Regions from separate parts of the Homo sapiens genome. Here regions 1, 3 and 4 are each reported to be linked to region 2. The links are microRNA targets in miRTarBase. Many come from high-throughput screens and were not tested one by one. Region 2 holds a microRNA gene; each other region holds the end of a gene's coding sequence.

Evidence for each region. Region 2 holds the annotated microRNA hsa-miR-6830-5p (CCAAGGAAGGAGGCUGGACAUC, at 3,257-3,278, opposite strand). A microRNA usually pairs through its seed, bases 2 to 8, with sites in the 3' UTR of a target mRNA and lowers its output. Matches are read on the target gene's strand: a 7mer-m8 pairs with bases 2 to 8, a 7mer-A1 pairs with bases 2 to 7 and ends in A, and an 8mer does both.
Region 1: miRTarBase lists NAA40 as a target of hsa-miR-6830-5p. Seed matches in the 3' UTR shown: 7mer-A1 at 5,545-5,551.
Region 3: the mRNA of HOXA1 is a reported target of hsa-miR-6830-5p. Seed matches in the 3' UTR shown: 7mer-A1 at 6,913-6,919.
Region 4: the mRNA of RAPGEF1 is a reported target of hsa-miR-6830-5p. Seed matches in the 3' UTR shown: 7mer-A1 at 927-933 and 7mer-m8 at 295-301.

The regions. Positions count from the first base shown.
Region 1 is chr11:63,951,642-63,959,473 of GRCh38, forward strand. NAA40 (N-alpha-acetyltransferase 40, NatD catalytic subunit) reads left to right here. Exons shown (of 8, transcript NM_024771.4): 4 at 597-692; 5 at 766-924; 6 at 1,115-1,198; 7 at 2,331-2,408; 8 at 2,697-5,678. The coding sequence ends at 2,838. Among named protein-coding and RNA genes, the nearest start is that of NAA40, 17 kb to the left of the region's middle.
Region 2 is chr5:132,214,636-132,222,467 of GRCh38, forward strand. MIR6830 (microRNA 6830) reads right to left here and starts at 3,283; the gene lies at 3,214-3,283. P4HA2 (prolyl 4-hydroxylase subunit alpha 2) reads right to left here. Exons shown (of 15, transcript NM_001017974.2): 2 at 3,910-4,009; 3 at 3,117-3,213; 4 at 2,562-2,713. The coding sequence starts at 3,991.
Region 3 is chr7:27,087,134-27,094,897 of GRCh38, forward strand. It overlaps HOXA1 (homeobox A1), which reads right to left. Exons shown (of 2, transcript NM_005522.5): 2 at 5,860-7,662. The coding sequence ends at 7,307. Among named protein-coding and RNA genes, the nearest start is that of HOXA1, 5.0 kb to the right of the region's middle. RefSeq lists enhancers at 4,455-5,365, 6,954-7,454, 7,455-7,764.
Region 4 is chr9:131,576,725-131,579,724 of GRCh38, forward strand. RAPGEF1 (Rap guanine nucleotide exchange factor 1) reads right to left here. Exons shown (of 27, transcript NM_001377935.1): 27 at 51-2,923. The coding sequence ends at 2,773. Among named protein-coding and RNA genes, the nearest start is that of PRRT1B, 33 kb to the left of the region's middle. RefSeq lists enhancers at 2,215-2,264, 2,295-2,424, 2,625-2,704.

The DNA.
Region 1 (7,832 bases), not on the chromosome of region 2:
GCCTCAATCTGTTTGATCAGCTGAGAGTATCCCCCCTGCTCAGATGAGGCAGGCAGGACTCCTGGGGCGGGGTGGGGCGTGTTGAGCCGTAGTCTTCTCGAAGGACCTAGGGTCACCCAGTGGTTTTGAAGGCGCAATTGGTAGATAAGAGGAATGGGGTCCCATGGGAGCCTAGTGAGGAGTCAGCTCAGAAATTACAGCAACAGGAAAAATGCCTAAGGGCAGGAACTAAATAACAGAAGACATGAGTGTTTATAACAAAGTACAGAAGAGACAGAAAAGGTAGAAAAAGAATAAAGAGAGAGCAGAGAGGGACAAGAAGTTTACAAAGTGCCGAGGCGGATTAGGACAGCTTGGGGAGGCAGGAAACGGGCCTTGTGGTTGGGGGGTGGGCCGTGTGGCCACAGTTGTTAATCTCAGCCTGAAAGACTTTGTTCCTGCACCTTCTCTAGTCATGCTGGGGCAGATACAGGGTTGGCTTTTCTCTGTGCAGTAACTGAGACTGGGCCTTCCTCCCTGTGATTCTGAGGGAGGAACAGCAGTGCCCTGGCAGGAGTGCTGTAACCAATTCCGTACACGTCCTGTCCTCTTCTCAGGTTGAATGTCTCCATTGAATGTAAGCGAGTGTCTGGACTGGAGCCAGCCACCGTGGATTGGGCCTTCGACCTGACCAAAACGAATATGCAAACCATGTAAGCTTGTCCCAACCAGGGGAGCCTAGTTCCTCTCGCAGCTTTCCCGTCTGACTGCTCCCAAATTCCCCAGGTATGAGCAGAGCGAGTGGGGCTGGAAGGACCGAGAGAAACGGGAGGAAATGACAGATGACCGAGCCTGGTACCTCATCGCGTGGGAAAACAGCTCCGTCCCTGTTGCCTTTTCTCACTTCCGGTTTGACGTGGAGTGTGGGGATGAAGTCCTGTACTGGTAGGAGCCATGGCTTGGGGGAGGTAGGGGAGAGAGACCCTGGCGATGTTCCAGGCACTCCAGCCAGGTGACAAAGCCCCTGGACCTACCTAGGTCTATGAGCTGCCAAGGACTGCAAGCTCCTCTGCCAGACCTTACAGCCTCTTCATGTCCCATCCTGCACGCTCACCTCTCTGCTTTCTTCACCTAGCTATGAAGTGCAGTTGGAAAGCAAGGTGCGGCGGAAAGGCCTGGGGAAGTTCCTCATACAGATCCTGCAGCTCATGGCCAACAGGTAAGGCCTCCCTTCTTAGGAGGCCCATATAGCACTCAGTTGGAAGGAGCTGTCACTGAGGCACTTGCCATTCTTTGAGCCTTGTTGGAGGAGGAGGCTCATAGGCATGTTTTGGGAGAAAGGTGTCTTAGAACCCTCTCAGTAAGATGCTCCCTGCCTTATTATGACTCCAGATTTTGTTTGTTTAGCTCAGTGCAGTGAACATCTTTTTTTTTTTTTTTTTTTTGAGACAGAGTTTCACTCTTGTTGCCCGGGCTGGAGTGCAATGGTGCCATCTTGGCTCACTGCAGCCTCCACGTACCGGGTTTAAGCAATTCTTCTGCTCAGCCTCCCAAGTGGCTGGGATTACAGGCGCGCACTGCCATGCCTGGCTAATTTTTGTATTTTTAGTAGAGACGGGGTTTCTCCATGTTAAGGCTGGTCTCGAACTCCTGACCTCAGGTGATCTACCTACCTCAGCCTCCCAAAGTGCTGGGATTACAGGCATGAGCCACCACACCTGGCCAGTGAGCATCTTTTGAGTTTCTAATCTCTGCCACCTTCTGTACCGAAGTAATGGTGCTACAGAGAGGAAGTGGGAAACATCCTTGCTCTGGAAGAAGCCAGTCTGGTCAGGGCCGATGCCTGTGCAGTCTGATCAGCCTGTGATGGGGGAAGCAGTGAGTGCTGTGTGGGGGTCCAAGACCTCCAGAGGCTAGAGGCCAAATTCAGGAACACTCGTGTGGGTGAAAGGGAGGTAACAGACAAAGGCAGAAAGGAAAGGAAGCATGACCTTAGTCTCTGTGTCTTTTCTTTTTTGAGACAGGGTCTCACCCTGTCACCCAGGCTGGAGTGCAGTGGTGTGATCGTATCTCACTGCAGCCTCTACCTCCCAGGCTCAAGTGATCCTCTAGCCTCAGCCTCTGGAGTAGCTGGGACTAAAGGCACATGCCACTATACTGGGCTGATTTTTTTAAATTTTTAAATGTTTTGTAGAAATGGGGTCCCACTATGTTTTCCAGGCTGGTCTCTAACTCCTGGGCTCAAATGATCCTCCCACCTTTGCCCCTCAAAGTGCTGGGATTACAGGTGCATGCCACCATGCCTGGCCATGTTTCTCTTTCTAAAAGGCGTTTGCTCTGCTTTCTTCCAGCACACAGATGAAGAAGGTTATGTTAACAGTATTTAAACACAATCATGGTGCCTACCAGTTCTTCAGAGAAGCGTTGCAGTAAGGAGCTGGGTGTGGGCCCTTCTGGGTGGTAGGTGGGCCTGCCCAGGGCCATTTTTCTGGTCCTGGCCCTCACTCATTCTGATGCCTGAGCTCATGGTCCAGTGGTCCATGGGGGTTCAGGTTCAGGGAGATGGTATGGCAGTGCTCTCTGATTTGGTCCACTGTCCACCTCCTGCACCCTCATCCTAAGGGTCTCATCAGTGTGGCTGGTAGAAGAGTTCTCGGGCCAGGGAGGAAGGCACTCAGCTGCCTGCCACCAACCCTTTTCTCCTGCCTGCCTTGCAGATTTGAAATTGATGACTCTTCCCCCAGCATGTCCGGTTGCTGTGGGGAGGATTGCTCCTATGAGATCCTGAGCCGGAGGACCAAGTTTGGGGACAGCCATCACTCCCACGCGGGTGGGCACTGTGGTGGCTGCTGCCACTGAACTCTCAGAGCCACTTTCAAGTCACAATGCTCTCTCCTAAGGCCTTTCCTCTTTCCTGGTCTCACTGTTCACCGGGTGTCCTCAGAGCTGTGGCCTCCCCAGCCCTGCACGTGCCAGGCTGCGCCCTGAGAGCACAGAACCCTGGGGAGAAGTGGTATCAGCTGCTCCTCCTCTCCTAGGAGACCAGAGTGCTAGAAGGGAATGAAAGGGAGAGGGAAGAGTAGGTGGGGCCGGGCAGTGAAGCTCATCCTCCACAGTGGCTGCCTCCTCATTTGGCTCCTGGGGCCTGCAGTGGAGGTTCTCGCACCTCTGCAGCCCCTAGATTCCTGGCAACCTCCCCTCCCCTGACACATACACACTTGGACAAATGGAATGTTTATGTCCACCTTTATGAAAGTTCTGGAGTCCTGGGTCTGGGGTTTGCTGGTCCCCAAAGAGGAACACACTGGGTGTAAGATCTGGGTGTAGAGGGCGGCTTCAGAGAGACTCACGCTTGCGCAGTTGGAATTGCTGTTAACGGAGACTGGGAAGATCTTTTGTGCCAAGATGCAGGGAAATGAAGAAAGCTCTTTCCAGCTGTTTTTATGGATTCATGGAGTGGGCTCATGTTGGGACCAGCTGACTCTGGGAGGAAGACTGCCTCTCCATCGCTGTCAGAGAGCCTGAAAGGACCAACAATGAGGTGTTCTTGGGACCCGCCATGGGGATGATTGCTTCTCTAGGCTCCTGGATGTTGCTGCATTCTAAGCTTAACCTCCTGGTCTCATGGCAGTGACTTGAGCTTTTGATTCATAGAAGAAAGCCAGAGGTTCTGCTTGTTCTTGTCTGCCAGCCCTCGTCGTTCTTTCTCCTCTGCCTCTCACCTCTACCCCAAATACCTCTGTTCTTAGTCTCAAGGGGAGAATAACATCAGGGAGCCCCTCATCTTCCCCAGAAGGACTTCTCGTTCCTCATGTAGTTAACTCCATTGATTTTCCTATCTTGGTGCTGATAGCTCTCTAAGGGTAGGGCACACCTCCCCACAGCCACCCTCCCTCTTCAGAGAGCCCCCAGCCAGCAGCAGGCCCCTCTGCCTGCACTCCTCAGGCTTGCCCCTCGCTGCCTCAGTGAGGCACTAGTGCCACTGCCGTGGCCCAGCCGGGCCATAGCTCAGGCTGCAGCAGAAATGCCTCTCAGTGGCCAACAGTTGCTTTTCTCTCTGGTGTCACCCTGTGGCAACAGGCTGGAGCAGGGGAAGGAGAAAGCCTTCCTCTTCTCTCATAGGATAGAAAGGCAGGCTCAGAACTAATGCTCATCCTGATCTCTAGGCCTTGTTCCTCTTCCAGGGAAGAAAAGCCAAATCCTTATCAAGGAAAAAGCACCTAACAGCTCCCTTTGGATATCCCTGAGCTCTGCTGTGGGGAGTATCATAAAGGTTCTAGCCTTCGTGAAGTTGTTCTCGTGGAGGTCTGTTGGTCCCTCTGACCTCAGCATCTGCTCACATCCCACCCTCTGCCCAACTCTGGCAGTCTCTCCTGGCAGATCTCCCCAGAGTGGTCCTTGCTTCTCACCTGGATTCCTGCTTGTGCAGGAGCCTGTGTACACAGGGCCTCCCTCACCCAGCCTGGCCCCTCTGCTGAGCACTTTGCGCTGCTCTTGATGGGCAGCAGTGGGACTGGGAACTCCTTAGAGAGGGCCTTGCAGCTTTACACTGGAATAAGTCTGCCTCTGCCTCTGCCTCACCCTGCTGGCTCCTGGTGGGTTTCATCCCAGGCAGAGTTGACATTGCTGGAGGGGTTTGGTGGACTCCTAAGAATCATGAAACCACAGGAGCATGTTTAGGAAGAGATTTGTCTCTGGTCCCTGTCTCTGAAAGGACACAGATGCTAAATATTTATTGTCTTAGATCATGGATTCCTGATACCTCTCACTCAAGGGGACCAAAAGGGACCCCCCCGTGTTCATCCCTTGTAAGGTGAGTTCAGTCTACGTTGTCTCTTTCCAGTCACTGGATACGTGGCACCAACTGGTCAATGGGTGCTTGGTGCCATACCCTGCTCACCCTAGTCTCTGCAGGCCATGTCCTGAAGGGTTCCTCAGGAGGTCGGGACTAGGGTGGGAGAGGCACTATCTGAGACCTGCAATCACTCTTGTTGGTCTTGAGCCCATTCATTTCCAAAACATCCATCTTTCTCCACTTCCCCCAGGTCTTGGTTTTGAGAAACAGCAGGCATGGCTGAGTGCGGTGGCTTACACCTGTAATCCCAGCACTTTGGGAGGCTGAGGCAGGCGGGTCACCTGAGGTCAGGAGTTCAAGACCAGCCTGGTCAACATGGCAAAAGCCCATCTCTACTAAAAAATACAAAAATCAGCCAGGCGTGGTTGTGGCCTGTAATCCCAGCTACTCGGGAGGCTGAGGCAGGAGACTCGCTTGAACCCAGGAGGTGGAGGTTGTGGTGAGCTGAGATCACGCCATTGCACTCCAGCCTAGGCGACAGAGTGAGACTCCATCTCAAAAAAAAAAAAAAGAGAAACATAGCAGGCCTTTTTTACCAGGCTTTTTGTGTTTTGTTTGTTTGTTTGGAGCATGTTAAGATTTTTTTAAGATTTTTAAAATTTTAGTTATATCCACCCTATTTCAGGTTATTTTTGTTGGTGTCAAGTATGTATAGGACATGTGAATGGTTCTTTTTAATTTTTTTTTAAGAGGAAATTTGGAAGATAAACTCCTTGATATATATATATATATATATATTTTTTTTTTTCTTTAGCAGCTTGTTATCACTGGAATCAAAGGGAAAAAGTGATCTCTTCTTGCATTGGTTGTATTTGTATGTCACAAATAAAAGACACTTTGGTCAGCTGCTGAGATGGCTTCCTGATGCTGGGGCACCATGGGCAGCGTGGATCTGGGAAGCTCTGGACCCTGAGCCTGTCCCAACATTGGGCCCGAACATCAGGAGGTGCATAGCTATGATAGCCCCATGCTGGAGAAAAAACTCAGGCTGTCCGGGGCAAGCAGCCAGAGCTGGGAACAGAGACCAAATGTATGTGTTTGTGCCACTTCCCAGGAGTTCTGAGTAGAGGCCAAAGGTGTTCTGAAGGGCGCCTGCTTTGCATCTTGGAGAGAAAGTCCCAAGCCAGGCCTTGTGACATTTGAAATCTGTGTCCAAACGTAAATTCCAGTGCCCATGTGTGGGAGGTGAATAGACGAGAGTGCTTCTTTCCTCTTTGACTTCATTGGGTTACTCAAAATATTCTTTGTCTCTTAAGATTCCTGCCCTCTTCCATCCATTCACAGAAGACAAGGCTCCAAGGAAGGGGAGCTCATGTCAGGGCTGCTGGGGCAGGAGAGTTATGAGCTGGTGGAGGCTGTGACCCCCTAGTGTGACAGATGGAGCTGTGCAGGTTGTTCCCCAAGCAGGGCTCCTGCCAGCCCTGGCCCGGGGGAGCTGGAGCTCAGTACTTTCTGTGGACAGTGGAGGGGCTGCCCCATTGTACTCTGCTTGGTGGTCTGCATCTGCTGGAACGGGGAGCAGGAGACCCTGATCCACATGGAGTGTTCGTGCCCTGGCAGAGCAAGCATCTGGGGAAAGAGGAGCCAGGGTTATACCTGTTCCGTGGGTCCCAGCTGTGGCATGTTGTGGCCTCTCCCCTGTGGGCAGGGGCACACCCGCAGGTGGTTTGTGCAGCTGTCTTATCTTTGAGGCCCAAAGAAAGGCAGCACAGCCCTTGGGAAGGGAGAGCAATTTGCCTGGCGAATCACATGGCCAGTTTCCCATGTGACAGAATTCTGCCCCTCAAGTTATTTGTTCCTTGAAGGCTGTGTTTTCATCCCAGGCAGAAACTTCCTGGAATGGCCATCCCCTTGCTGAAGGGTGAATGGCCACAGTTGGAGAGCTTGGGGCCATTCCTTCATCCCTGCCGGCTGAGTGCAGGGAGAGTTGAGGTCTGCACCCATTCCTCCTCCTTCTCCACCTTCACAATGGCCTGGGCCCTCCACAGTGGCTGCTTCAGTGAGGTGTGGTGTGACTTCTGGGTCTGCCCCATGCTGCTGCCACAGCTTCAGTGGGCAGGCGGAGCAAGAGGCACCACCGCTGAGCAGTAGACAGTCCAGAGCCTGGGCTGGACTGAAAGGGACTATGTCCCCAGCGGGAGGGACGCCACTCACCAGATGGTTTCTGCCGCCAGCTTTGAAGGTAGTTCAAACTAGGGGGCAGGCTTTTCTAGTTTTGGCTAGAATACTCCCTCCCCAAGTGCAGCAGAGGTTGTTCTATACCCCTGAGGACAGACGGGGTCTGGGGAGAGGGGATGTGTTGCTGTGGAGCCTGGTGAACTAATGTGGTGGTGTTACTCCCAATCTAAGGATAAATTGCCAGCGCCATGGCTCACGCCTAGAGCCCCAGCACTTTGGGAAGCTGAGGTGGGAGGATTGCTTTAGGCCAGGAGTTTGAGACCAGGCTGGGCAACATAGTGAGACCCTGTCTCTAAAAAAATATATTTTTTGATTAGTTGGGCCTGGTGGCAGGCACCTATAATCCCAGCTACTTGAGAGTCTGAGGCGGGAGGATTGCCTGAGCCTAGGAGTCTGAGGCTGCAGTGAGCTATGATTGTGCCACTGCACTCCAGCCTGAGTGACAGAGCAAACAAGACCCTGTTCTTAAAAAAAAAAAAAAAAATTGCAGTCATTGTGTCTTACGCCTGTAATCTCAGCACTTTGGGAGGCCTAGGCAGGCAGATCACTTGAGGCCAGAAGTTCGAGACCAACCTGGGCAACATGGTGAAGCCCTGTCTCTACTAAAAATAAAAAAATTAGGCTGGGCGCGGTGGCTCACTCCTGTAATCCCAGCACTTTGGGAGGCCGAGGCGGGTGGATCACGAGGTCAGGAGATCGAGACCATCCTGGCCAACAGGGTGAAATCCCGTCTTTACTAAAAACATAAAAATTAGCTGGGCTTGGTGGCGCATGCCTGTGTTCCCAGCTACTTGGGAGGCTGAGACAGGAGAATCGCTTG
Region 2 (7,832 bases):
AAGTCATCCCCCTCCCCCTAGGTTGACAGCTGAAGGACCACCTAGACAGGCCAAGGACCAAGGTGGGGTTGCACCAACCCAGCAAGGTCCGTCCCCTAAGAGACCACGGTGGGCCTGTTCTCCTCTGTACTCCCACCACTCAGACCTTCAATGAGTTCAGGGCATGGGCTCTCCAGTTATGGTGCTCAAGACCACAGCCTGAAGCGTGGGAGAGCTTTTGACCACAGAAGTACTCCAAGGAGGCTTTTCTGGGACTCCAAGCCCTAGCTGTAAAGTAAGATGTGTACCTCCTACAATCCCAGGTGGGAGCCAAGCCTTCCCAGGCTGACTTAGGGCCTTCAATTCTGCCTCTAAGCTGAGAAGTGAGAGGGGAACAACAAGGCCATTCCTTCCCCAACCTCTTCCCAAGAGTAGCTGTATCCACTGCCACCTATGACTTCAGACCTAAACATCCACTTCAGCCATAACTGGGGACAGGGACCAAGAAGCTGTAACCCTGCCTTCCTTGTCTTCATAGCTACATGGTCAGGGACTCTAAAGAGTTTAGAATCTGGTGGGGTGGGAGTAGGGGAACATGCTGCCAGGAAAAGCCACACTGTCAGCATGCCCTGCTCGTTTCAGGGGCAAGAACTCAAAGTCAGAGATGAAAACAACCAATTATTCTCTGGGCCTGCCCTATCTCCTTCCAGGTAATCATAAGGTTTTCCAAAGGAACCAGATGATGGTGGGAGTGTAGGGTGTGGAGAACAAGATTGGAGAGAGGAGGTCATCTGGGTAGGCTTAGTCTCCTGCCGTGCAGGCAGAACAGCCTGTCCCGAGCTGCAGGCCCAGGCGGAGAGGCGGGAGTCTGGGAAAGGCAGCCGTGGTTTCTGGAGGCAGTGAGCTCACTGGGCACAGCTCCAGCCTGGCTGAGCTCACCAATCCCTCTCCAGAGGCCACCCTGCCCCCAGGCCCAACCCAGTCTGGCCACATGGGCTAAAATGTCTCAGCCAGAGAGACAGCTAGTCTGAAGTTAATCAGCACTCACAGCTCAGGGAAAAGAGGCAGTGAAGAGCTGGGTACAATGGCACTGTGCCTATAGTCCCAGCTACTCAGGAGGCTGAGGCAGGAGGATCACGTGAGGCCAGGAGTCCAAGGTTGCAGTGTGCTACAATCGCACCTGTGAATAGCCACTGCACTCCAGTCTAGGCTAATATAGTGAGACCCTGTCCCTTTAAAAAAAAAAAAAAAAAAAAAAAAAAAGGCAGCGGGCATGGTGGCTCACACCTGTAATCCCAGCACTTTGGGAGGTGGAGATGGGTGGATCACGAGGTCAAGAGATCAAGAACATCCTAGCCAACATGGTGAAACCCTGTCTCTACTAAAAATACCAAAAAAAAATTAGCTGGGCATGGTGGCATGTGCCTATAGTCCCAGCTAGTCAGGAGGCTGAGGCAGAAGAATTGCTTGAACCCGGAGGCAGAGGTTGCAGTGAGCCGAGATCCCGCCACTACACTCCAGCCTGGTGACAGAGTGAGACTCAGTCTCAAAAAAAAAAAAAAAAAAAAAAAAAGTCAGTGAGTCCAGGGGACTAAACCCAGGGCTAGGAGTTAGGAGAGCCCACCTCCAGGCCCACCGTACCATCTCTTCTTATTGACAGAAAAGTATTAGGGCATAAAAAGTATTATCACAATAAAAGCACCAAGTATAGTTTAAAGCTTTTAAAAAGTTCACACTCTCATCGGTAATATCACTTCTAGGAACTTACCCTAAAAAAGTAATCAGAAGTATACACCAAGAAATATGTAAAAAGGTGCTGATAATTCAGAAAAAATCCCATATCCAATGACTTGACCCATTTGACAGTATTATCAGTATGACAGATTATCACCATCTGACAGGTAATCACCATCCAGCCATTAAAATCATGTTGCAGAAGAACATTGAATGGCATATAAAGAAGCTGAGAAATTCACAGAATTTTTTCTTCTGTCACAAATCTACCAACAGATATGCTTTGTTTGTAAAACATATGAATAGGAATGAATTTAGATCAGACCTATGCTCCCCAACTTGCCCTGGCCCCACCATCCAGCCCACTTGACACTTGTAAATTCATTGTCCCTCCAAGCAACTGAGTTTGCATGCCCTGGTATGTATGTATAGTTCCATTTTTTAAATGTATATGCATAGGTAGAAAAACTACAATTTTAATAATGCTCACCACTGGGCAACTGGATTAAGAATTATAATTCTCTTGTTTTTGTGTTTTCCGACTTTTCTATAAACATGTATCACTAAAGTATAATTGGAAAAATGTCATTAGCAAAAAATAAGAAAAGACAGACACTAAAAAAAAGACGCTAAAAAAAGAACTGAACATCATTACATGTTAAAAACCAAGGCCAGCCAACTTCCAGGTCCCCACAGAGAAGGGAGAGAGCCATGAGACCAGCAGGGTCCTGTTTCCACAATGTACTTGCCCACCAACACCCAGACCCAAGACAGGCTCAGACACAACAACCCAGGCATGAGCACACAAACATATGGGCTCACTCAAGCACCTGCTCACCGTCCCTCACCTGCAGCTGAGTCCTGCAGGACAAGGTCCTCCAGCGCAGGCCAGTCTGTGTTTAGCCGCTTCACCAGTTTGTAGGCATTCACAGGGTGAGCCAGGTAGCCCTCAGCATCAGCAGCTGACTTGCTAGTCAAGGCTTCCATTTTGTTGGCCCAGCTGTGGAACCAGAGGAAAAGGAAGACTAATGCGTCCACCCACATAGGTCTTGACCTGTGACAATTTTCCTAGTGAGAATTCCCTGGTGCCAGGTTCTGGGGCCCTTTTCATCAAGAGGCAATGAAAAATGAATACAGTAACTCCCCACAGATACTTCTAGCCCCTTAATCTAGATAACAGCTGGGACCCCCAATGTAAGGGAAAAGGTCTTAAATAGAAAATAAACAGTGACTCCTTAGCCCATGTACTTAGCTCCTCTCAAGCACTGGCATGAAGTAACCAGGCCAGCCCCACATCACCCTCTCAAAGGTTTCCTCTTATAGGCACCCTGGATGGCTTCCTTGTTCCTTGAGGGGCAGAAGGGAAGGAAGGCCAACTAAGGATGGTTGGGGACTTAGGACACCTCTTAATCTTGGAAAGCTTGGCTTCCTCCACAAGGATGTACTCTTTCAGAGACTGCACCAGCTCTTTCTCTGCATAAATCAGGTCAGTCATGTGCCCTGCAAGGGAGAGAAGAAAGACACCAGTGAGAAACAGATGAGGGATGTCCAGCCTCCTTCCTTGGGGCACAGAATACCAGCACAGAAGCAAGTCCCCTGGGATAAGAACATGTCAGCTCTCTGAGGATTATGGGGACTTGGAGTTAAAGGGGGCCTAGGCACTCATGGGGCTCTATCTCGCAACTTCAGGAAGAAAGAGGCAGAGGCACCAAGGGGATGTTTGAGATAAGTGCACTGGATGTCACTCAAGAAGCAGCCCTAAATCTCATTCTCCGACTGTTACATAGCTGGTCATGACACTGGGGCATGGATATCCTGGGGGCTCACCACAGGATAAAAAGCTCTGAACTTTAGGTCGGAAGGATAGGAAAAGCTTGATCCTCAGGATACAAAGGATTTGCTGCTCAGAACCACTCTCTGGTCCATGGGCAAGGTGGTCAAAAAGACCAGAGAGCCCAAGTGCAGCCTGCACTTCCCAGGAAGAAAGACCCAATTCAGACATCTGGCTCCCTGAACATCCAGATCATTGGGATCTTATAGGGGAAAACAGCAACTCTGCCAGTTCCACTCTCCTCAGAACTGGCCAAAACCAGTAGTTAAGGCTATCCCACTCTAAATGAGAACAGGCTGCAGCCAGAGACATCCGTGGCATGTGAGCCAAGGTGTCAGGGAGACGACAGTCCTGTTGGCACGTACCAATAGAGGTGAAGAATTCGGCCTGCACACAGCTCAGGACACCAAACCAGGCCATCAGCAATGCAGACACCCAGAGTTTCATGGTCACAGAGGGAAGTGTCTGAAAGGCATTCAATGACAATCACTGGATCAACAAAGTGAAAAAGACTAATTTAGGTGAGGAGACACATAGGCATGTACACACATATGCAGATAATCAAACATATCAAAATCCTGGCCTAGCACACAGAAGCTAAAAAGGACAAACAGCAGAAAGAACAAAGAGCGTGCAGCCAGTGATGTGTGCTCAATTCTGGTCCCTGCTCTGGGAAGTCACGTGCCCTGCGGAGAGAGCCCATCCTCTCAACTCCCAGCAACCACCTGTACCATGAGAAGGCGGAATCGCAGTGGGGTACAGTCAGCTCGGGTTCCAATGGTCTGTCAGTCCAAGATTCTGGCCCACTCCTTCTTATTTCACAGACTGCTGTTTGTTTCTATCTTACCTTCCAACACATATGCCAGGACAGTGCCAGGTTTTGGGGAACCAGTCCCTGCCCACAAGGAGGCAACAGTACATGAGAGACAATAACAGAAAGATAATTTGACACAATATCCTCCAGAGTACCAACACCCAAACTAAGGTGTACAACAGATGGCCAGCCAGAAGAGGAATAAAACTAACCCTTGTCAGTCTGCACCTGCCAGAGAAAGAGCAGTCAGAGGAGACAGTCTCCTAGGTAGACAGTGTTCTTCCTGTAGTAAGGCTCCTTGGCAGACACTGTTCTCACTGGCCCGTCACCATTCATTCACAAATATTTACTGAAGACCTGCAGATGCCAGGCACTGATCTAGGCACTCAGGATACAAAAATGAATATGGCACACATGGCCAAAACCTCAGGCTGGGCTGCTGACATGGGAAAGGGGCCAGCTACTGTCTTCTCATCAGCCCAGAAATAGGCACAACCTGAGACAAACCCCACTGGCAGTAAACCTCAGTCCACAACAGAAGCCTCCGATACCGTCTCCCAGCTCAGCCATGCAGCCTAGACTGTGCTGGAGGATTAGCACCCATCTGTACCCCAGCTCTGCCGGTCTTCTTCCTGCCCTGCTTTTGAGCACCCCACTGGAGTGCTCAAATGGAAATTCACTAAGACAAAGCAAGCAAAACAAAGGAAATACAAATGCTTTCCCAAAAAAACATAAGCCTTATCTGACAGAATTCTAAGTCTAAGATAATGCCAGTTCATCAGTTTTTTGCCCGCCATACTTGATTAGACACACAGCACACCCACCATTCCTCATCTTACTCTTTCAGAAGAAATCCTAATCCATTGAGATTCCAGGTTAGGCTCAGAGAAGGCCAACCACAACTCCCATCTGCAAATGGATCCTCTATCAGAAGGAAAGCATAAGTGAATGGCGCCATGTGTTCATGCCTATGCCAAATGTCTGCAGAGCTGACAGTCTTCCTGTCATAGTCTAGGTGTGGGGGTCCCAAGACACACAGGACAATTATCTTCCAACCTGGAACCTGCTGCAGGGTAGGGCGTATTGTGCTAAGGGGTCCATTAGGGAGTTAGAGCAGCAGAAGAGAGCAAGTCATCAAGAGAAAGTGAGTAAGCCTGGGCTTGCCCTGAGGCAGAGTCCAGGCCCTCCTGGTTCTAGCCACAGGTCTGCTCCAAGGCCTTACTATACTGTCTTCTCTATCCCAGGATTTCAGAAGGCTTCTCTCTTGCTTACACAAGCCCCTTATACCTAAGGGATTGGGTGTCTGTTTCTTGTTCCTCAAAAGGCTTGACTGGCTCAGGCTCAGCACCTTCTGTATGTATGTAGGGAGGGGACAGTGAAAACATAGAGCTGGGAGGATGTATCTGTGATCAGAAAGGGACCAGCTGACTGCTCCTCAGAGCTGGGGTGGTGGGAGAACAGGGCCCAGGCAGGTTCCAAACCAGACATGGTTGGAAGTGGGGAACCCAGCATCTCTACCCAGGTGTGTCTCCAGTTGCAGTTGCATACCTTTTTAGAGGCCAGATAAATTCCAGGGAGGAAGTCTGTCCATTCCTTTCAAATCATTCTGCTCCTATCATCTACGGTTCATACCTCACAACACTCAGGGAAAGCCAGGTTTCTTCATTACATGAATACCAGCTGTGATTTCTCTGGAATGTGCGATCTGGCTTAGACTGAGCCCATTCTTGAATCTCAGCCTGGAGGCAGAGCCTCAAAGAATCACAGATAGGGTTTGGGCAGAGCCTCAAAGAATCACAGATGGGGTTTGGGCAGAGCCTCAAAGAATCACAGGTAATTACAGATGACTTACCTACCAAGAGCCTGCAAAGTCTTGCTCTGGTGGGAGAAGGGGATAACTAACTCTGCTAGCCTGGAGAGCTGGGCACCTCCAAGCAGCAGCTCCCAGACTACCACATCAACACTGACATCTCTGGCAGGGGTACTCTGGAGCCCTACCCCATTTCTCCCAAGCCTGGGCCCCTTAACTCAAAAGGCTCTGTACAAAAAGTCCTCTAATTAGAGTCAGATTGGGAGGAGGCAGCATCCGAGAGGGACTGTGCCCCACAATGTGGGAAAGGCCAACCTCCAACCCATCTCATAACTATGCCCACAGCTTGCTTAAGACAGAGTAGGTGAAAGTATGTGTACCTGCTGAGTGCCCCTACAAAGTGTCCAGTGCTGCTAAAAGCCCTCCCAGAAACCCTCAGAATCCAACTGGAATAAGTCTGGAGGTGAACAATGTCAAACCCACTTTTATGAAAAACAAAGTGACATCTTGAGCAGAAAACCAATACTGAGTTTTATCTGTGCTGCATCCCCAGAGTTTAGAACAATGTCTGTCCCATACCAGGAACACAACAAAAAATACTTCACCACAGACTTGTTCAAATTAGGAAACTACAACAATAGAAGATTTTACATTTCTTCTATACAATGAGTTTTTATGGAGTATATTAAAAATGAATACTATATATCAACATGAAGAGATCTAAGCATACTGTTAAGTGAGAAAAGTGGGCCCCAATAATATGCACTCTATAATTCCATTTTTGTAAGGAAAAATTAATGTATATGTGTATATAGAGAGATGCAAGAAAAGAGTCATACATCTGGCTATATCTTGGTGAAATAATTTCTTTTTATTTTTATGCTTGTTTCTCTAATCTTTCTACAAGAAATTCTATAGCAATTTTTAAAATTATTTTATCATATGCTTAAAATGTAAAGAAAACAAAGCAGGCCCTTCTCAAACAGACTCCAAACGGGCCCTGCCAGCCCTAGTGTTTGGACCCCCACAGGAAAGTCCTGCAAAACCTGCCAACATCCCAGCAACAGTGATTCACCCATCAGGCGACTGGCACTGTTTCTAAACACAGGGCAATTCCAAGACATACAACCAGAGGTCCCACCAAACCTGAACTTTGGAAAAGACATTTACAATCTGGCCAAATGGCCATGAAAAGATGTTTCCAGCTGCAAACCAGCAGCGTCCTTAGCTTCTCTCCTTACCTCATCAGGCAGAATCTCTGCCAAGCTCCCAGCTGCAACCCAAATGCAACAGCCTGAGTTTTAACAATGTATTTAACAGCCTAGAGACAGAACATGAGCTTGCTGAGAACAAACTGGTCTTGCTTGGCACTGAACAAGAACCTGCCTGCCTTCTGTGAAGGGGGAAAACCTAACTGGACACGGCTCCCCGCTGCCTCCAACTCTAGGATAACAGGGCTGAAAGGACCTGTGTGTTCAGCCTAAGAGGATCCAGAGGCTCCAGGAGACCCTGCCACCAAAGCACATGGATGTCCATTCAGGCCTATAAGCTGCTGCCACGGCACCCTAGGCAAGTATGGGGGGTACCCTACTCTCCTTAGCCTCAGTCATCACCCTGATCTGAGCCACCCCTAACTTCCCCTACAGGCATCCTGGCCCCCACTA
Region 3 (7,764 bases), not on the chromosome of region 2:
ATTTCTAATGTCGATAATTATCCCAAGTCCTTGTTCACTTATGCAAGTTTAAAAAAAAAGCTGGCGGGGGGCGGGAGGCTGGGTGCAGTGGCTCATGCCTGTAATCCCAGCACTTTGGGAGGCCAAGGCAGGCGGATCACTTGAGGTCAGGAGTTTGAGACCAGCCTGGCCAATATGGTGGAACCCCGTCTCTACTAAAAATACAAAAATTAGCCAGGCGTGGTGGCAGGTGCATGTAATCCCAGCTACTCGGGAGGCTGAGGCAGGAGAATCGCTAGAACCCGGGAGGCAGAGGTTGCAGTGAGCCGAGAACGCGCCACTGCACTCCAGCCTGGGCGACAGACCTAGACTCCGTCTCAAAAGAAAAAAAAAAGTGCTATTGTTAGGAGGGGGAAGCCGAAAGAGTAGGAAGCAGTACTTGGAAACTTTCTAGAAAGAAGTGAGACGAGGCAAGGTGTTAAGGCATTCGACTCAGCAATTGGAGTAGCAGAAGGCATCTGATCTGAGAGGAAAGGCAAGGATGCGTCCCTGAACATCCAATATTCAGAAACCCGCACCGCTACTGTTGAAAACAACTCAATTGAACTAGGAGGAGAATGAATATGTTACTTAATTAAGTACATTCTGAAGATATCTGGGGCATGGGGCGGACAGGGAATCAAATCTCCTTTCCCCTTTCAAATCTTAGAGACAGACGAGGGGCGAGGCCTCTGACCTGGGTTTCCTTCTCTGAGGAAGTGTTGGGTCCCGAAGCCCTCTTCGGGAGAGTCAGGTGGCGGCCCGGGGCAGCTCAGACCGCGCCTCAGGAGCCCTCGAAGCTGGGCGACGCTGGCAGAAAGAAACGCGAGGCCTCATTGTCCCCCGAGACAAAGCGGAGCTCTTCGCAGCCTCGGGGACCTGTCCGGACTCACTTTCCCTTCCCTCCGAAACCACCCACCGACGCGGGCCGGGAAACGCTCAGGCCCAAGATGGGCTCTGAGCGCGAACCAGGGAAGAGCCCGGATGCTGCTCCTTTCCCGCCCCGGACCGGCGCAGGTCCATCCAGAGGCGCGAAGCCTGCAGGCCAGGGAAGAGCCCGGATGCTGCTCCCTTCGTGCTCTGCCTGGGGCCCAGGAAGCAGGAGAAACGGAACGGCGACGTTGGGTCAAGAACTCAGAGGGTGAAGGCTGGGAAGCCAAGGAAGGAAAGCCGTCCTGACCTCGGCGTCGGGGCTCCTCTACAACCCCGCAGGGTCGCGAAGGTCCTGCGGCATCTCCTCTCGCAGTTGCCGCAGCCTAGCCGGCCGGGGGCAGGCGCTGGTGCCCCCCGCCCGCTCCCCGCAGCCCCAGCAGAGCCGGAGTTCCCGCGGCCGCCGCTGCCCGAGCGACTCGATCGCCCGAGCCGACCTCTTCCCAAGCCTTGGACAGCTGACCCCTGCGCATCCTAAAGGAAAGACCCCATCTGTTCCTCAGAATGGGAAAATTCCCGTGCATACTTTGCCAGAACCGTGTTGCTGATATTTCGGGGGTTGGGGTTACCATTTTAAATCGTGGCTTTCTGCATTCTTGTTACGGTTCTGTGGCGACTTAGAACGAAGTGGGTCGTAAATCGTAAAATTGTCCAACGCGGCTAAAACGTGTCCCAGTTTGAAAAGAAAAGTCGCTCAATAATTTTTCTTTTATTTTCTGTTGCAAGCATTTGTGTATTTTTTCCCAACCGATTAACCACACAAGCCTAAATGAAAATATAAAAAATCTGATTTCTATAGATTAACCTTGTGATTAGACGTTTTACCAACAGGTTTTTAATACAAGAGTAAAATGTAATGGGCTGATTAAAAATAGAGACACGTGTTTTAGTTGTGTTTGAACATGTTGCAAAAAGAGACATTGGTCTTTTCATTTTTTCCAGTAAACTCAAAATGCAGTCATTTAAGGATGTTTTGCAGGATATGATGAGGGTTTAGAGTTGCCTAAGGAAAAAAAAAAAAGGTGTTTAGAGGCTAGCGCCTACTGAACATACTTGTTTAATTGATATTTTGTTTGTAGTTCTGCTATCAAAGGTCAGCTAGCTGTATTTGATGGCTGGTGCTATTAAAAATAAGGCACTAAAACGCTGAGGATTCCAGCTCACCTCTTCAAACACTGACAACCATTGATGTCCCTTTGGGCATCAGGTTCTGCTGAGATCAGTAGGACCCCATGGGGATGAGATGGAGGAGAATGTGGAAAGTTGTATTGCAAGGAGACTTTATGTTAATAGTTTGGGCTTGGGTGTGTGTGTGTGTGTTAGGTACATGAGTGAGTCTTGGAAAAAATTAAGATATGTGAGTCAGAACAATTTAGAAGGTATGCTGCGCCACAAACTAGCCAGAAAAAGCAAACACATTTTTAAAAGGTTCAGAGTTAGAACCCCTCCTGGAATGTCCCTTGCATCTTGAAGCCCCTTCTAGATGATACTTCTTGACAATTTAATGGAGGTCGAATTTGTGTGTAGGCAACTCCTCTTTCATTTATTCTTTCCCATCCAAGTTTAAAAACAAAACAGAAATATATGTGTGTGTGTTGAATTTTACTTGCCCTCCAGATTTTTATTTTTATATTTTAAGAACATATGTATTTAAAGGTAAGTAGCACATTTTATTATTCAAACAAGATGGCAGAAGCATTCAACTCAGAGGTTGTTTCAAAGATTCGGTATTCCTAATGGCCTCAAAGTCAAGGACTTGACTGAGTGGGTGGCCAGTAAAGCAGAAATGGAAAAATAAATCATATCTAGTCTGAAACAAATTACATGGAATAAATCAGGGAGGGACAAAATTGAATCAGGACTTTAGAATTTAAAAGTGCACTGGACTCAGGTTCTAAGCTGCCCTGTTTTTTTATTTAGGAAGTAAGAGTATGGATACTGACTGTGCTCTCAGTCAAACCAATCCACCTCTGGGTGCCTTTTTCTGATCCATAGAGTGAGAGATTAGGGATGTGGGTCCCATTCAATTCTGGTCATTTAGGCACAAGGAGTCCTAAGGCAGAATTTTTGTGTGTTCTCACAAATGCAGGCACAAAGGGGACTTATCTAAGGCAGAGGGTCACCAAAGTTGACCAGTGACTAGCTTATCCCAATAGTGGCATGCTAACTAAAGGGTGTTCTTGTATGTACTGAAAAAGCCATAGCGTTTCTTTTACAGCCCCATCCAATATAAAGAAAGATGTTGTTCATGCACTAATTTCAGTATTTTTAAGCACAGGAGTTGCCTGTCTCTCAAAATAAATTAAAGCCTGAAATGCCTAGAGCTTCTGCTTTAAGAATGATTATTCTTAAGGAGGAAACACAAACAGCAGTGACCATTTTTCACAGACGTGCTCAGCCATCAGGAAAGCTTAATAAATCCCTATTTAGTATGCATTTATGCAGTGATTACATGAACTTTGACCTCTGAAGAGCTGTAGCAATTAGCTTCAGTGTCTAGCATCTTCTACTCACCATTCCCCACTGGCTTCCTTGTGTCTTCCTTTTTCATCTCTCAATACTTCATGCATTAAGAAGGCGTAAAATTTAAAAGTTGACTTTCCACCTGAGGTATTTGCTTCTGCGCAAGCCAATTCTCCCTCCCCCCTTTCCCACTCAACAGCCATCTCAGATGGATATTGGGGCTCTGATTGTCAATATTACTCAAACACAAATGGATTTCAATTCAATCTTGCCCTGTACTTTCACAAAGATAAACTCTAATGGCCCAAAGAGCTTCATTTCATAGCTTGTGGCATCTGAAATAAATCAGATATCTTCTGTCAGACTAATTTAACATTTTAACAATATTTGATGTGATTTATTTAAAGTCAAATGAAACTGAATGGATTGGCAGAAAACTAGAGGAGGGGGCAGGAGAAGGGCAGCTGGAAGCTTCCAAAAAACAAAAAACAAAAAAGAAAAAAAGGAAGAAAAGAAAAGAACCAAGAGGGGAGAGGAAAGTGTTTTAAGTTTCTAGTAAACATTGTTTAGCAAAAGAATAATAGGAAAGTTGCCCCTTTTCCAAAGAGGGATGGAACTATAATTGTTGCCTTTAGTTGAGAGCTCAGATAAACTGCTGGGACTCATTCTAAAGTGACCCATCACTGCATTCATCTCTTCTTGAACTTTCGGTGAACCTGAGATTAAACAGGGGTGAGCAGCTAAGCAGTTTGTTGTTAGCAGCCTTTTCAACAACCCTTTCAGACTGAGTAAATATTGATCGGTTTGAATCTGATTGCCCCAGAGGAAAACACCACCGCATTTGAATAGCCTCCAAAAGTAAACTTTAAAAGGTGAAACCCAGAGCAGACTTCAGAGCCAAAGCAAGACCTCAACTCAGCCTAGTTTGGGAACACTCTGTATTTGGGGAGTACTGTGGATAAATGTAGAGGAAGTGAGGAAAAAAACATTGGAAAACTAGAATTTTGTATCGCAGTTATCCCAGGTGCCTAACTGAGACCCTTGTTTCCTTTGTAAATGTATCAATAAAATGTTATTTTCAGTTTTCCCACTCTGTGTTGTTTCAGTTACCATTGCTGTCATTTTTCAAGTAGCTAACTGTGCTCCTTAGAGACCAAAGCAGAGAGACCTTGAAATAGGATGTGTTAAGCGCCTTTGATTTAATCGATTGAGACAGCTAAAAAGATACAAATGTTTTCCTTGTTGAAAGGTGTATTAATGTTTCCTAAATGCATTGCTTGTTAACTGATTTATTCCATGACCTAGAGAAAGCTAGAGATGGTTAGCCATAATTTATTGTTCTCTCTTGCTGCTACATTAAAACCAGCATCTTAAAGACTGGAATCTCTGGGATTCCAGTGGATCTCGCCCTGCTTTTAGATATTGAAATGGAGTCAATGGCATGCAAATGACACTTTAACACATTAAAGTATTTGGAAGCCAGCCATCTGTTTTGCTGTGTGGCCCTACACTAATAAACAAAAGATACAGTATAAGGCCAGGCAGGAAATGAAAGAAAGGGTTGACCGTCTTTGAAGTTCTTCTCCATCCACTTGAGTCTTTTACAGGCAACCTCAGAACCCAGCAGCTGAGGGGAGGGCACCCGGTGCCCTTGATATGGCCGCAGCAACTGCACCGCAAAGTTCAGCCTTCTCTTCTTTGACAGGGAAGTGCAGGAATTCTCACAAGTGCCCTAGACGGCCTGCAAATTCCAAATTTTTGTAGGGTTTTTCTCCTCCAGCCCGTCCTTTGTAAAACACCCTTTGGGGAGGAAGGAAGTCATCTGTCTGTGTTTGTTTTCAATGCTGTAAATTTTCTGCTGTACTGTTGGGCTAAATAAAATGCCTCCAAAAATGTGTGAAAGTAAAGGAAAGCAATAAAGAGGCCTGGGAGGAGAGCCACTTTGAACTCTATCATTTGCTGGCTTCCTCTTTTGAGAGCAGATACATACCTTGGTCAGAAACAACTTGGATATTGAAAGACTTCAGGGTAGCTTCCACAAGTTCACCTGGAAGTACCTGTGGAGCCCAGAGAAGAAAATGACTTTTTTTTTCTGGGTTATGTGGCATGGAATTAGAACTGTGGATCCTTTACAGCCATGACGGCTATGAAATCAAAGCTGAGTCTGAAGGGAATAAGATGTGCAACCCAGAGATGGGGAAGAAGGGGTGAAGAGCCGCAGGAAGGGATGGATGTTGACAGGAAGAATGGGGGAAGGGATGCAAGGGTTTACTAAAAACACTCCATTTCAAGGGTGGAATATATCAGAACTCTGCCTGACAATCCAAAAAGAAGGAAGAGGAGTGGAATAAGGGCCCCATCCTCACAACAACTTTATACTGGAGCTAATTAAATGTGAATCTCTTAGCTCTTGGTTCACTGATGTGAGGAAAGACTGACTGAAGACAGTTTTGGCTTTTGAAGGGAGTTCTGTTTATATATACGTCAACATCCAGTTGGAGGTGAAAAGGTTAGCACTTGACCCAGGAAGTATCCATGTTTGTTTCAAAAATAAATCTGCTTCATAAATTTCTTCATCAGTCTTTTTTTCCATTATGAGCTTTGATTATAATAAAGGAGCTGTTATTAACTTTTATTCAAGAAAAGGCCCATCTCTTTGAAAATATTTACCACCCTTCTCCCTTTCCCCTCATGAAATGTGCCAACTTCATAGGAATTAACAAATTGTAGCCCAGCCAAATACACGGATGCTTAAGCATACCTGAAACTTGAGTATATTTATTTATTACAGACATCCTAAGACCCGTAAACTCTGCTCTGGATCATATCACTCCAGGATCTCAGAGCTGTTCATGATTGTACAGGAAATGGGGAATATCATAGGCTCACAAAGGATAACTGATAGAACTCAGTGTGGTACTTTGGGGACATCAAACATTGTGCGACATGCAAAAGACTATTCACGAATAACACAAAATATACATTCATTGTGCCATCCATCACATTAACAATTGAGCTGAAAATACATTATATCCAGCTAAGATAACTGTGGAAGGAAGAAATTGGTTTGAATAATACTTTTAGGTTCTGAATAACCCAGCACAAATTTTAAACAGAGGGTGGCCCGAGAAGAAAGGGGTAGAGATTGGGAAAGACTTAGCACAGGAAGCCGGGTTTCTGAAGTTTGTGCTCTGCAGGGCTTCTTAACTGTAAGAACAAATCAAGGCTACCCTCTGAGGCATCTGATTGGGTTTAAATGAGGGAATTTTTTCTTTCACCTATAAAATTGTACCAGTTTAGAGAGTTTGCCCACCCTGTTTTAGTAACCTAAACATTTCTAGAAAATCTGTATAAAGATAAATCTCTTAGGACAAAGTATTTACAACCAGCAAACTCACACACATGAAAATGACTTAAATTAAGGGATGAATTAATTGTGTAAACATATAGTGCATCTCTTCTTCCTGAGCTCCTGGACTCGCCTTTCGCTATATCCTACTTTCAAGGACAAGGGAGGGGAGAGCTGTACATATAGTTAGATAAAAGATGAGAAGATTCCTTCTGGCATGTTTCTGTTGGCAAAGGGAACTATTTTCCAAAAGGTCATCTGAAAGGAACAGTAGGTTCTGTGAATTCTCCTAAAAGCAGGAGGGATGTTAAGGCCCACCAGAAAATGTATGCTGGCACCCAATCTGGATGAAGGTGTTAACCCCGCACCAAGTCTCTGGTCCAGAATTATCTGCAAATATATTATCCTGGCCAGGAGCTCCCCAGATAGGATTAGAAAGGAAGAAAGAGACTGTAAATGGAAAGAAAGATAAGCTAAGCATGTGCTTTGGGTAAGAAGTCCCAGCCCAAGGAGATGCCTGGGCTGTTGTCTGGGGCTGGAGCCGCCTCAGTGGGAGGTAGTCAGAGTGTCTGAGGTAGAAGACCCCGGGGAAGGAACGCAGGGCGAAGAGCTGGACTTCTCTGAGGATTCCTCGGCCTTCTCGTCGTTTCCTGGCGGGGTGGCCGGAGAGATGGGCAAGAGACCCTCCTTCTCACGTTTCTTTTGCTTCATTCGGCGGTTCTGGAACCAGATCTTCACTTGGGTCTCGTTGAGCTGCAGGGATGCAGCGATCTCCACCCTGCGGGCGCGCGTCAGGTACTTGTTGAAGTGGAACTCCTTCTCCAGTTCCGTGAGCTGCTTGGTAGTGAAGTTGGTGCGCACCGCGTTGGGTTGACCCAGGTAGCCGTACTCTCCAACTTTCCCTGGGGCAAAGTGGGAAGCCATGAGACGGAAATGTAAAAATTTTTAAATCGACTTGAGATTCCCCACACGCTTCATGGCAACACTCAGGTAAAGAAAAGATC
Region 4 (3,000 bases), not on the chromosome of region 2:
GCTGGGCTGTCACTGTAGTTGCACACATGCAGCTGGGCGCGGACATGGCATTGGGCAGCTTTCATCTGTGTTTATTTTTTTTCATATAAAAGTTACATGTTTGAAATGTCTGCAGGAAGATGCCACCATCAGACAGGTTAGCTGGGGCATATATATTACAATGTAACCCTGTGGAGGTCGTGGGGCCGGAGCGGGAAGATGCTCCCCAGAATCGGGTTCAGGTCAGACATGGTGTGTGCCTGCCCCTCCTTGCCCCCCCACACCCCGACACCTGCAGGTGAGGACTGACCTCTGCAAGGAACGAGTCCTCCGCCTGGCTCACGTCTGTCTGTGAAGACTGATTCCCACAACCCGCCCGGGCCCCCCAAAGGAACAGACGAGCCACGGCCAGGCCGCAGCACTGAGCACAGAGCTCAGCAATAACCAGGGCCAGGCTTAGGGGGCACAGGGGGCTGCCTGCCATCAATAAGTTAGACATACATCGCACCTTGCCGTCCTCACGCAGGGAGCCCCTGGGCACTGCTCATGTGCTGCCTGGGCCCTGCTGCTCAGAACACCAAGGGCTCCCAGTGAGGGCCTGGGGAATTGCCTGGGCACACTGGGGCCAGGCACAGGGTCTGTTCTGAATTCAGGGAAGGTGAAGAGACCCCACCTCTATCCAGCTCAAGCCCAAGAACAAGGCAGACAGAGCTGTGGACAGCACCCGACCACAGACACGGTTCTGCCTGCTGCTGGAGTGAGAGGCCTGGTTTCTGAGGCTGCAGCATGGCACTGGCATTGCCTGTGCTACAGATGGGGACTCCTGCGAGTCTCACAAATACAGGGAGAATTTCAGTTCACACAACCCAAGGGCCCTGTGTGCAGAGCGGCCCTCACACGCGCACAGCAGCATTCAACAGAGCTGGGCAAGGGAAGGGGAGAGAGAGTCAAGGATTGAAATGAAGGGACTTCAAAAAGAAGGAACAAACTAAAAACCCAACCCACACACAATACTGTTAATAAGCCAGCGACTCTACACACACACTCCTTAAATAATAAAGTGACAGGTCCCGGCTGGCCCCGCAAGACCACCGCAAGAGGGGGTCCCGCCACCAGAGGGGGTCCCGCCTGCCACTGCACGGCTTTCCTCCCTCTATCTACAGGACAAACAAAACACGGGAGAGGGGAAAAAGCCCACATTTTCTTCTTGATAAATGCTGTTCAAAAACCCATGAAGGACTCAAAGTGACATGGTGGTTTAAAAAAAAACCTAAATGATCAACAGATGTTGCTTTCTATATTTTTCCTTTGTTCTGTTTGAACTGGGCTAAGTAAGCACAGTTAGACCCTGCTGTTCACTTGACCACGTCCTAAACCCGGGACAAGTGAGCACTCATTCATGCACAGCAGACCCGGAGGCATGGGCTGGGGCAGCACAACTGGGTTCCCGCAGCGCCCTGCCTGCAGGCTCATGCTGGAGGCCACGGAACCAGGCGGCACAGGGCAGATTCTGTTTGTCAAGCGCCCCACAAGCCTTGCCCAGATTGTCAAGCTCAGCAGCGAGAATGGTTTTGACGAGGAGGATGGAAACAGCATCTGCTCTGGAAGCCGCTCTGGCGTGGGGAGAGTGGGGAGAGGGTGCGCTTGCTGCAGCTGCTGCCTTAGGAGGCTCCTCTGTGGCCAGGCTTCTGCCTCCCTGCACCCTGAGGGACCATTCGGGTGCCTCAGGGATGCCCTTCCCTCCCAGGGGCACTGACAGCACTGGCTGAAAGGTCTGAAGAGCCAGAGGAGGAGCCCTGCTGGCTGGCCCAGGATGGGGCAAGGAGGGAGGGAAAGCCAGGGGATGGGGAGGGACATGAGATGGAGTTTAAGGCACACAGCGAGCGATGGAGGAGGGAGGTGCTGGCCTCTCCCCTCTGAATTAACTCCCCCAGGAGCTCAGCTCTGGCCTCAGTTTGGTGAGGTTCAGAAGACTCCCAGCAATAAAAAGTATTTCTTGGATGATCAAGTCCTCCCTTACTCCAGCCTCCTCTTCTCAGCTCCCCAGGTGGTGTGGGAGGGGCCCAGTGGCCTGGGGTGGGGGGTAAGGGGCGACGGGATGACAGAGACTGCTGCTGCTCTCAGGCGGGCAAGGGAGGCCCTGATGGCGCCAGTACCGCGGGGCAGAGCACCAGCTGCGGGGCTGCTAAGGCGTCACCTGCGTACCTTTCCGGGCCTGCTGAAAAGCTCACACCATCCTCCATGCATCAGAAGGGGAAGCGGAAAGTGAAAGGATCCTCCCCCGAGTCTACTCTGCATTCTGCCCACCCAGCTGCTTGCCCCCATTCCAGGGCCCCTGCAGGACAGGCCACCCCAGGAGGCCTCCACTCATTTGAGATTTCAGAAGATTCAGGGACCCTGGAGCTTAGGGAGGGGGAGCACCCACCACTTCCTTGGTCTGCTGATGAGGTCTCTGCTGCTCTCTCCCTGGAGGGGAGTGGGTGGAAGGTCAAGAGGGGAGAGATGGAAGTAAAAGCAGAAAACAAAACCAAACCAGAAAACCACCGGTTTGTAAATTGGCAACAAGACCTGCCTGCTGGCTGCCCTGAGGCCCACGGGTCTGCTCCCACAGAGGAAGGAGGCAGGAAGCGGCTGGCAGGCTCCAGCTCCCGCCCGGCCCCGCTGAGGGCTGGCCAGCCTCATGGCTCCGAGGCCGGGACTCCTGCCATGCGCCTAACAGGTCCAAGGTCCTCTCCGGTCTGGGAGCTGCCCTCTGCGCCCCTCGAGCATTCTCCTGGATCCCGGCGTCTGCTCCTAGGTCTTCTCTTCCCGGTCTGTTTTTCTCCTTGTTATGTTCCTGGGTTTAATTTTCAGAGACAGTTCCCATAGGGCCTCCTCAGCCAGGTGGTCACTGAAGTCATTGAAGAAGTTTATAATGTCGTCGTTCCTCCGCATGTCATAGTGCCTGGTGCAGGGGATGGGGAGCAGTCAGTGAGCACCTGTGTGGGCTGGATGGCCCGATGGCGCCACCCTCCTGGAAGG